Regions from separate parts of the Homo sapiens genome. Here region 1 is linked to region 2. Evidence: fine-mapped expression QTL. A gene starts in region 2. The other region holds a variant in brackets. All regions are shown on one strand. Distances are from middle to middle.

The links. PIP is the estimated chance that this variant, and not a neighbour inherited with it, causes the effect.
Region 1: its variant is the best candidate, but not a certain one, in a credible set for the expression of LINC02884 in subcutaneous fat (GTEx, PIP 0.50).

The regions. Positions count from the first base shown.
Region 1 is chr1:112,236,877-112,241,397 of GRCh38, forward strand. The region is part of intron 1 of LINC02884 (long intergenic non-protein coding RNA 2884); the gene reads right to left. Among named protein-coding and RNA genes, the nearest start is that of LINC02884, 120 kb to the right of the region's middle. The variant C/G (reference allele first, on the strand shown) is at 2,330.
Region 2 is chr1:112,358,136-112,362,135 of GRCh38, forward strand. It overlaps LINC02884 (long intergenic non-protein coding RNA 2884), which reads right to left and starts at 2,472. Exons shown (of 2, transcript NR_183466.1): 1 at 2,227-2,472.

The sequences.
Region 1 (4,521 bases), 120 kb before region 2:
GACCCCTAGAATAATAGTTCTCAGTCTCTGGACAGGCTTTAGGATCCAGAGGATTACTTGAGGATCTTTTGAAACTACCAATGTACAAGTTTCACCCCAGATCAACTGAATCAGAATCTGGGAATGGAGCAATAGAATGTTTTAAAAGCTTACAATGCCAGTGAAAGACACTTGTCTAGATTCTACCTGTCTCTACCAGGTCAAATAATTAGCAAGAGCATCATGGCAAACAGTTTAATGAGTCCTAGTTCTAGAGCAGAGACTGATGTCACCTGCTGGAGGTGGCCTCTCTGGACTACAAGGATTAGTGATATGCAGAAGGTCATTGGAGACTCATGGGACAAATCTGACTGGTCTCATAATCACTCACTCAAGAAGTACGTTTTTGTTTTTTTTAGACAGGGTCTCTCTCTGTTGCCCAGGCCAGAGTGCAGTGGCACAGCCACTGCAGCCTTGACCTCTCAGGCCCAAGTGATCCTCCTGCCTCAGCCTCTTGAGTAGCTGAGACTACAAGCATGTGCCACCATACCCAGCTAAGTTTGAAATTTTTTTGTAGAGACTGGTCTCACGATGTCACCCAGGCTGGTCTTGAACTCCTGGGCTCAAGCGATCCTCCCACCTTGGCCTCCCAAAATGCTGGGATTACAGGTGTGAGGCAATGCGACTGGCCAAGAAGTACTTATTGATTGCCAAACTGAACTAAACTACATCAGAGTTTTGAATTCCAGTCAAACATATCCCATGGCCTGCTCTACATTCTTGCTTAAACATAAACAGACATCTTGAACTTGACGTATTTAAAACCTAACACCTGATTTATCCTGATCAAACCAGCTGGTCCAACAGTCTTCCACATCTCAATTAATGGAACCTCCTACCCTCTGATTACTCAGGCCCCAAACGTTGGTATCATCCTTGATGCCTCTCCTTCTGTCACATTTTACATTCCAACCCATCAATGAATCCTGCAGGTTTTCCCTTCAAAATACATCTAGAATCTAACCACTTCTCACCACCTCCACCCACTGTCTCCCTGCCCCAAGCCACCACCATCACTTGCCTGAATTATAGCAATAGCTTCTGAAAAATTGTCCCTGATTAACCCTTGCCCCTTGCAGACTTTTCTTCACATAGCAGCCAGAGTAATTTTTAAAAACATAAGTCAAATTACACCACTTATCTGTAAAACTTACAGTGTCTTCCAATCTCACTCAGAGTATGATGTGCCAGTTTGACTGAGCCATGGAGAGCCCGGATGTTTGCTCAAACATTATTCTGGGTGTGTCAGTCAAGGTGTTTCTCAATGACATTAACATTTGGATCTGTTGATAGTAAAGCAAATTGCCCTTCTCAGTGTGGGTGGCCTCATCCAATCAGTTGAAAGCTGACTAGAACAAAAGGGCTGATCCTTCCACAAGTAAGGGGGACTCCTCCTTCCTGACTGCCTTTGAGCTGAAACACTGGCTTTTTTCCACCCCTCAGGCTTAAACTAAAATATTGGTTCTTCCCAGGTCTCCAGCCTGCCAGTATGCAAACTAGAACTACACCACTGAGTCTCCTGGGTCTCTAGGGTGCCAACAGCAGATCTTGGGACTTGTCAAACCGCATAATTGCATGAGCTAATTCCTTACAATAAGTCTGTTTATATATACACCCTGTTGATTCTGTTTCTCTGCAGAACCCTGACTAACACACAGATCCAAAGTCTTTACCAAGACCTCCAGGGTCTTATATAATCAGACCTCCTATTACCTCTCCTTCTCCTCTCCATCTTCCTCCTCATTTCCTTCCTCTCCCCTTCAAATGCTGTGCTCCCACAATGTTAGCCTCAAATGAGTCAAACATATGTCCCCCTTGGGACTTTTGCACCTGCTGTTCCTTCTGCCTGGAAAGCTCTTCTGCACAGCTCACTCCTTCACTTGCTAAAGGTCTCTCCCAGCTCACTGATGTCTTATTGGAGAGGACAACCTTGACACACGCCTCTGTCCCATATAAAATAGCAATCCATCCCCATATGACATTCCTAAGTCTTCTTCTCCTGCTTTAATTTTCTCTGTCATGCCCTTGACTGCCTGATATATTAAATATTTGTCTGCTTACTGTCTTTTCCCACACTAAAATGACTCAGACAAAAAAACACACAGATAGAAAAACAAGCAGTAAAGGAGGATAAAGCATGAGAAGGCATTGTCTCAAATAGGGGAGTTAGGAAAGGCCTCCTTGAGGAAATGAAATGGATACAAAGCCTAGGTGAAGTGAGGGAGAATCAGGCTGAAAATGGGAAAGAGAGGCTATGAACAGGGCACCCCACTCATATCTCCTTGTCATT[C/G]TTTATTCAGGTAAGTGCCAATGACGTCCTTCTGAGAACACCTATCACCCCTTCCTGAAGGCTTTCCTCAGCCTGCACATGGGGCAGGTCAGATGCACGGGGGCGGTGGGCAAGGATTAATACCCCTCAGCCAACAGCCCTCAGCAAATGATGGCAAGCAGTTAGAGAATAAGGACCATGGATCCAGCAAATGATGGTGAGGAGTTAAAGAATAAAGACCCTGGCTTCTTCACCCTTTCTATGGGACAACTCTGAGTCATGTTCAAAACCATCTCCCGGAGTCCCCAGTGGGACTGAGCCCACATGCCCACAGGGTTAACCTGCTCCAGGACACATTGTTTTGGCTTTCTTCCCTTCTGTACCTGCCAGTGCTTCCTGGGTTCAATGTCCCCTGGATTCATTCACATTGAAATCCTCATCTCAGAATGCAGCCTAAGACAAAAGAGAGCTCACCTGGTTGCTGATGGCTTTTTAGCCTTGAGATGGGGAGTCTGTGGGAGTGACATGCAGTGGGAAGGAGGCCTCTGCCTGGGGGAGCTGTGTGCAGGGTGGACCGCAGGCGCAGGGAGTGGGGTGCTGGAGCTGTCTAGGGGAGGCTTGTGATCCACACATCTTTCACCGCCCCACACAAAACAGAATGCAATATTCAAATCAGGCTGAGGTCCTGGAGGGAGAGAGAGGCTACACAGGCCTGGTGGTGAATCTGCAGAAGCAGATTAACCCAATCTGCATACTAAACAGCATGTAAATTACGTTATTTCAACCCATAAGTTTAGACATGTCCATAGGAATAAAAATTTATGACAGTGATAAGATGTATGGTTGGCGAAAATAAGCTAGCCCAAGCAAAATATGCTAAAAGGGCTATGGAAATTCTCCAAATTAAGTGAGTGAAGCCAGCCCCAGCCTTCAGCCCGGAGGTGGGGAAGCTGACTCCTGGCCCTCAGGGCACTCTGCTGCCTCCAGACACTACAGGAGAGGGAGAGAATGGTCAGTGCTCATGCAAAGATGGGGGAGCTGCAACCCCTGGGAAAAGGGCTCTGCCTTTGGAAGGGGTCACCTTTACAGATGAAGCAGAAATCATTCCAGGATCCAGGGTAAATTCTTTCAATAATGGTAAATAATAATAGTAGCTAATATTTTTGAGGACTTAGTATATGCCTAGCTTACTTCTGTGCCCTCTATGTGTTCTATTCATTTAATTCTTATAACCACCCCATGAGGTAGGTATCATTTTGTATTCCATTTTAATATGAGGAAACTGAGGCTCAGAAGTTAAGCTTGCAGTAAGCAATAGAACTGAACTTGGGCAGCCTGGCCCCAGAGTCTACGTATTTAACCATAATGCTCTACTGCTTCCATTGAATGTTATGTGGAAAAGAACTTTGAGAGTAATTTATTTCATCCCTCTCACCTTACAGATGAGAAAAATTGAGGCCAAGGAGATGCAGAGACGTGCTCAAGGCCATGCAGCTGGGATAGCAGAGCCAAGATCCTGGCTTAGGTTTTCAGACATCATGGTCAAGGTCTTTCATGTGCCTAGGGCACCTCCTCCCTGTGTCACTTGCAGTGGTCTTGGAAGGCTTAAGGGGCTGGAATCAGGTGAGAACTACCAGCCTGCATTTTCTTTCCTGTATGGCCCTGAGTAACAGACAGAGAAGGTCTGTCTTTAGTAGATTTGCATAGGGCAGAGCAGAAGAAGTTTAGTTTCTGCTCTCAGAAGTGTTCTTTCATAGCCAGAATACTCTACCCTGCCTGTCTGGGGTGAAAGAACTCCACAGAATGTATACCAACGCTTGCCTCAATGCCAGGCTCCTGTTCCAAGTGTCTTGACCCTGTCACTTGGCTAAATTCTCATGATTCCCAAGGGCCAAGACTTTTTTGGCCAGGGTTCATTCAGTTGAAAGTGATCAACCCAAACTCAAACCAGCTATGCCAAAGAGGAGGTTTCTGGAGGGATTGGGAAGCCAGGGTGGAGCTGGCCAGGTCCAGGAGGACATGCTGTGTCTTGAGGACTTGATGCCTCCATCTGCGTTCCTTGTGCCTGGGAACACACACTCAGGGAGGTGCTCTCCACACAGTGGGAGAGAGAACAGCCCCAAGCCCTCATTCTGAGCAGGGAGCAGAGACTCCCTCTCCCAGAGCCGATATGTCAAGTCTATTTATTCTTTCAACAGGATGCAGGGAGCCCC
Region 2 (4,000 bases):
GATTCTAGGCCTCCCTGGGAAAAAATTAATCTAAAATGTTAGAGCAGGATTTGTCCTTGTGTCCAAAGGCTCTGTGCTAATGACTTCAACATGACCACACAGCTTGGCCCATTTGTAAGTTGACCACAATCTCACCAGGGCTAGTTCAGCTCTTGCACAAGCCCCAAATGGGAAGATTCCGTTAGTCTAAACAAAAAAATATTATGGGGAGTACTTCACTGTGAACCACATATACTTATTTAAGGCTTTCAGGGTAAGGGATGAGGAGAGGTGAGGAGGCAGAGGGATCACAGTATGAAACCAAGTAGGCAGAACAGAGTATCGGTAGAGAGTAGAAGCTCCGAGTTCAGCGTGCCTCTTTACATCACTTTCTGACTATAAACCTTAGAGATGCTATTTAACATTTCTATCTCAGTTTTCTCATCTGTAAAATGGGGACAGTGACGGTACCTAGCTCATTGGATTGTGGTGTGAGGAGATGAGATGAAGTATGTGACGTGCTTGGGACAGTAGATGGCACATGGAAGAGCTCAATAAACACTAACTATCCTCAAAACACATGAAAACTACTCAAGAGACATTTCACTTGCGGGCACATGAACTTACTACCAATTGAGAGTCTCAGCGCTGAGGTTGTGCAGTGAAGGAGCATGTCAAATGGTGGGAATTAATCAAGAAATCCTTTCAGGAGGAAGGACAACTTCAACACAGGTTAAAAGAGAAGAGACAGGATAGCACTGCCTGCAGCTGTGCATGTCCTAGCGTGTGTCCCCATTATGCTAGACCCACAGCCAAGAGGAGCCAAGCAACCCCACAGAATTACCAGCAAGCCGCCAGCAGATGGAGCCAGCCACCTCCACACACTGCTGTTCAAGGCACCAGCACCCTCTAAATGGACCGGCACCCAGCCCACGTCCAGTCAGGAGCAGGACTGAGAGAGATCAAGGAAGAGTCACCCTTCACGCCCCTGTGGAGATGATAAGGGTGCTTTCCTGCCCCAGTGTGAGGGGAGAGGGAATCCAGACTCTCCCTGATGCCTCAGAGGCACAGCTCACTGTCAGAGTCCTTGCCATCCTGGAAGCCTAGGACTGCAGCCCAGTGCCCTTGTTGTTCACCTACCCCACTGTGGGAAGGAAAAGCAGGATGCCTGATGAACTTACTTTGAGGGCTGGGACTGCACTTGAATGTAGAGACTGGTATCCATCTGAGTCTGGGAGATTCTGAAAGCAAGAGGCCCACTACAGTAGCCCATCCGGCAGGGCTCGAAGGACCCTGGGGCAGCATGACTGGGAAGAAGATGGGGGCAGCTCTCCCTTCCCAGGTCTGTGGGGCCCTTGAAGGATTATGGGAGAGGATTCCTGCAGGCCCTGTGGCTCTGCATGGAGATGCACGGAAGTCAGTGGAAGGGCAGGAGCTGAGGGTTTGCCCAGGTACCCATGGCCAAGTCAACAAAGGGTCGTTGGGCACCTGTACCACTGTTGAGGCTAAAGAGAGGTGCATCTGTGTGAGGGAAGGAGGGGGAAAGGGTGGTGTTCAGTGATGGAGGAGGGTGGGGTGAGATCTTCAGCATCTAACAGAGCCACAAAGAACAGGAAGGGGAAAAGGACACTCCTGTAAAGAGGTCTCTTACTCTCCATCCCTCCTCTCTGCCCAAATACAGATGCTGAGGCCTCAAAGAGGGAGGAGGTGAGGCATCTTCAAGCCAGGCCCTACTTCCCCTCCACTGCTCCAAACAACCAGGACCCAACTCTCACTTGTGCTGGAGGGAAGGGGAGAGAAGAGCTCTGAATCGAGTTTGCAATGAAAGTTTTAAAAATATAAGAGGCTGAGTCTTAATTACTGGAATGAGACTGTTATAGTAACCGAAAGTGGCTGAAAAGTTATGGAACCAGACCAAGATGTCGTTAAGGGAGCGGCTCCTCAGCAGGAAAGAGAGATCTGGCACAGCACAGCCAGGGCAGTTACTGGAAGAAATAAAATCTTTTCATGTTTATACCCCAACGAGTTGAGACTCCCCAGTGAATCAGGCACACAGGAAGTACCTGGGCCTTGGACACCAGTGTCCCTGTGGTCAGAGTACCCCATGAAGGATGATGTCACGCGGAGCACAACCTCCTCTTCCCATTCAGGTGCTGTCTCACCTCCCAGGGCAAGAGAAGCAGGAGGAATTTGTCCTCCAGCTTTAATGAGGCACTTAGAAAGAGGAACAGGATGGTTTCTTCTTACCGGAATCCTCGATGGAATGCAGGCGCAGGCAGCTGAAAGAGATGGTGCAATTTGCATACTTCTGGTGGATTCCAGGAAGCATCAGCCCCATTTCACCCTAACAGCCAGTGGACTCTGCCTGGGAGGGCCAACAGCCAAAGAGAGCTTTCAGTCTCCAGGCTGAGAAAGTCAGGAGAGGAACAAGTCAGGGGACACCACCAGCCCTGGGACAGCGTGGCAGCATATCCAGAAGATCAGGAAACTGCCGCAGAGGCTTGGTCCCCTACTGGAAATTGAAAGAAAATGAAGTTTAGAAAGAGCAGGGTGGGAACTGGTTTGCAGAACAGAATGTTCCCTTGGCTTATTTTCATCTGGGGGAAAGGGAAGAACTAATACTTATTGAATGCCTGTGCTGTATCAGGCACTATGTTCATTCTTGTCTTATTTAATCCTCCCACAACCCTGTAAGGAAAGCATTTTCTCCATTTTACAGATGAAAAAACTGAGGCAGAGTGGTTGCCTAAGGTCACATGTTGTTGGAATTTGAACTTCATGTTTGTCTGTGTGGTAGACAGACACAGAGATGCCATGCTTACATTGCCCCTTCAATAAAGGACTCACTCCCCTGCTACCAAGAATGTTGGTTTTATTTGCCCCCAGCAATTAGTTCCTTCAAGGACCACCTGAGTTTTTAAGCCACAGTCACTCTCTTCTTAAGGCAGCCCCTAGCCAATGGCTGAGCAAGGTGGTAGTACAAAGGCCCATCCCTCTTCTACCAATGCGGAACTCCTCTAACAAGCAATTTTTGCTCAGAGCACCCTGTTAGACTGGCAGAGGCTTTGTCAAGTCTGCATCAGAAGCCAAGAGCTCCTCCTGGCCAAACTGCTTCCTCCCTTTTCCACTCACAGGTGATCCTCCCCTTTGCACTTCTACCTCTGTTGCAGCATCTAGTTCCAGAGAACCCAGTGGAGACTCCTAACAGCCTGACTGCAAAGCTTTCCCTTTTTCTGACACTTTATCTTCATTTTCACTTGTCCTTAGGTAACATTGCTGCAGTGCAGAGAGTGAGCTCCTTCTTGGTAGCAGGGGCTTCACCCCTTCCAGAAGAAAGCTACTGAAGGTTTAGTGATTAAGGCAGTTTCCAAAGAGTTAGTTATCCTTGATGATTATGTGCTCAATGCTCAAAGGCAGTTGCTAACATTCAGACTTTGAGGTCTAAAGTCCAAGTAAAGAGTCTACCCCCACCTTCTCCCTCTCCCTGACGTCAATTCCACCCCCTTAAATTGCTACAACATGGAATTAAGATATATAGTTTTATTATTTGTTGTGCTTAATGGAAAAGCTTTAGGATTTCTGAGTTTAATTTAAAAAGCAGATGGTCATAAGCAACAAAAGAAACAAATATATAAATTGGACTTCATCAAAACTAAAAATTTTGTGCTTCAAAGTACACTATCAAGAAAGTGAAAAAATAAGCCAGCACCCATAATCCCAGCTACTCAGGAGGCTGAGGCAGAAGGATCACTTGAGCCCAGGAGTTCAAGGCCAGCCTAGGCAACACAGAAAGACCCCATCTCTAAAATAATAATAATAACAAAGAAAGTAAAAAGACAAGCCAATTAAATAAGGGCAAAGAATTTGAATAAACATTTTTTCAAATAAAATATACACATAGCCAACGTGCACATGAAAAGTTGTTCAACATCATCAGTCATTAGGGTAATGCAAATCAAAACCAGAATGACACATCACTTTATATCCACTAGCATGGCTATAATTTTTTAAATGGACAATA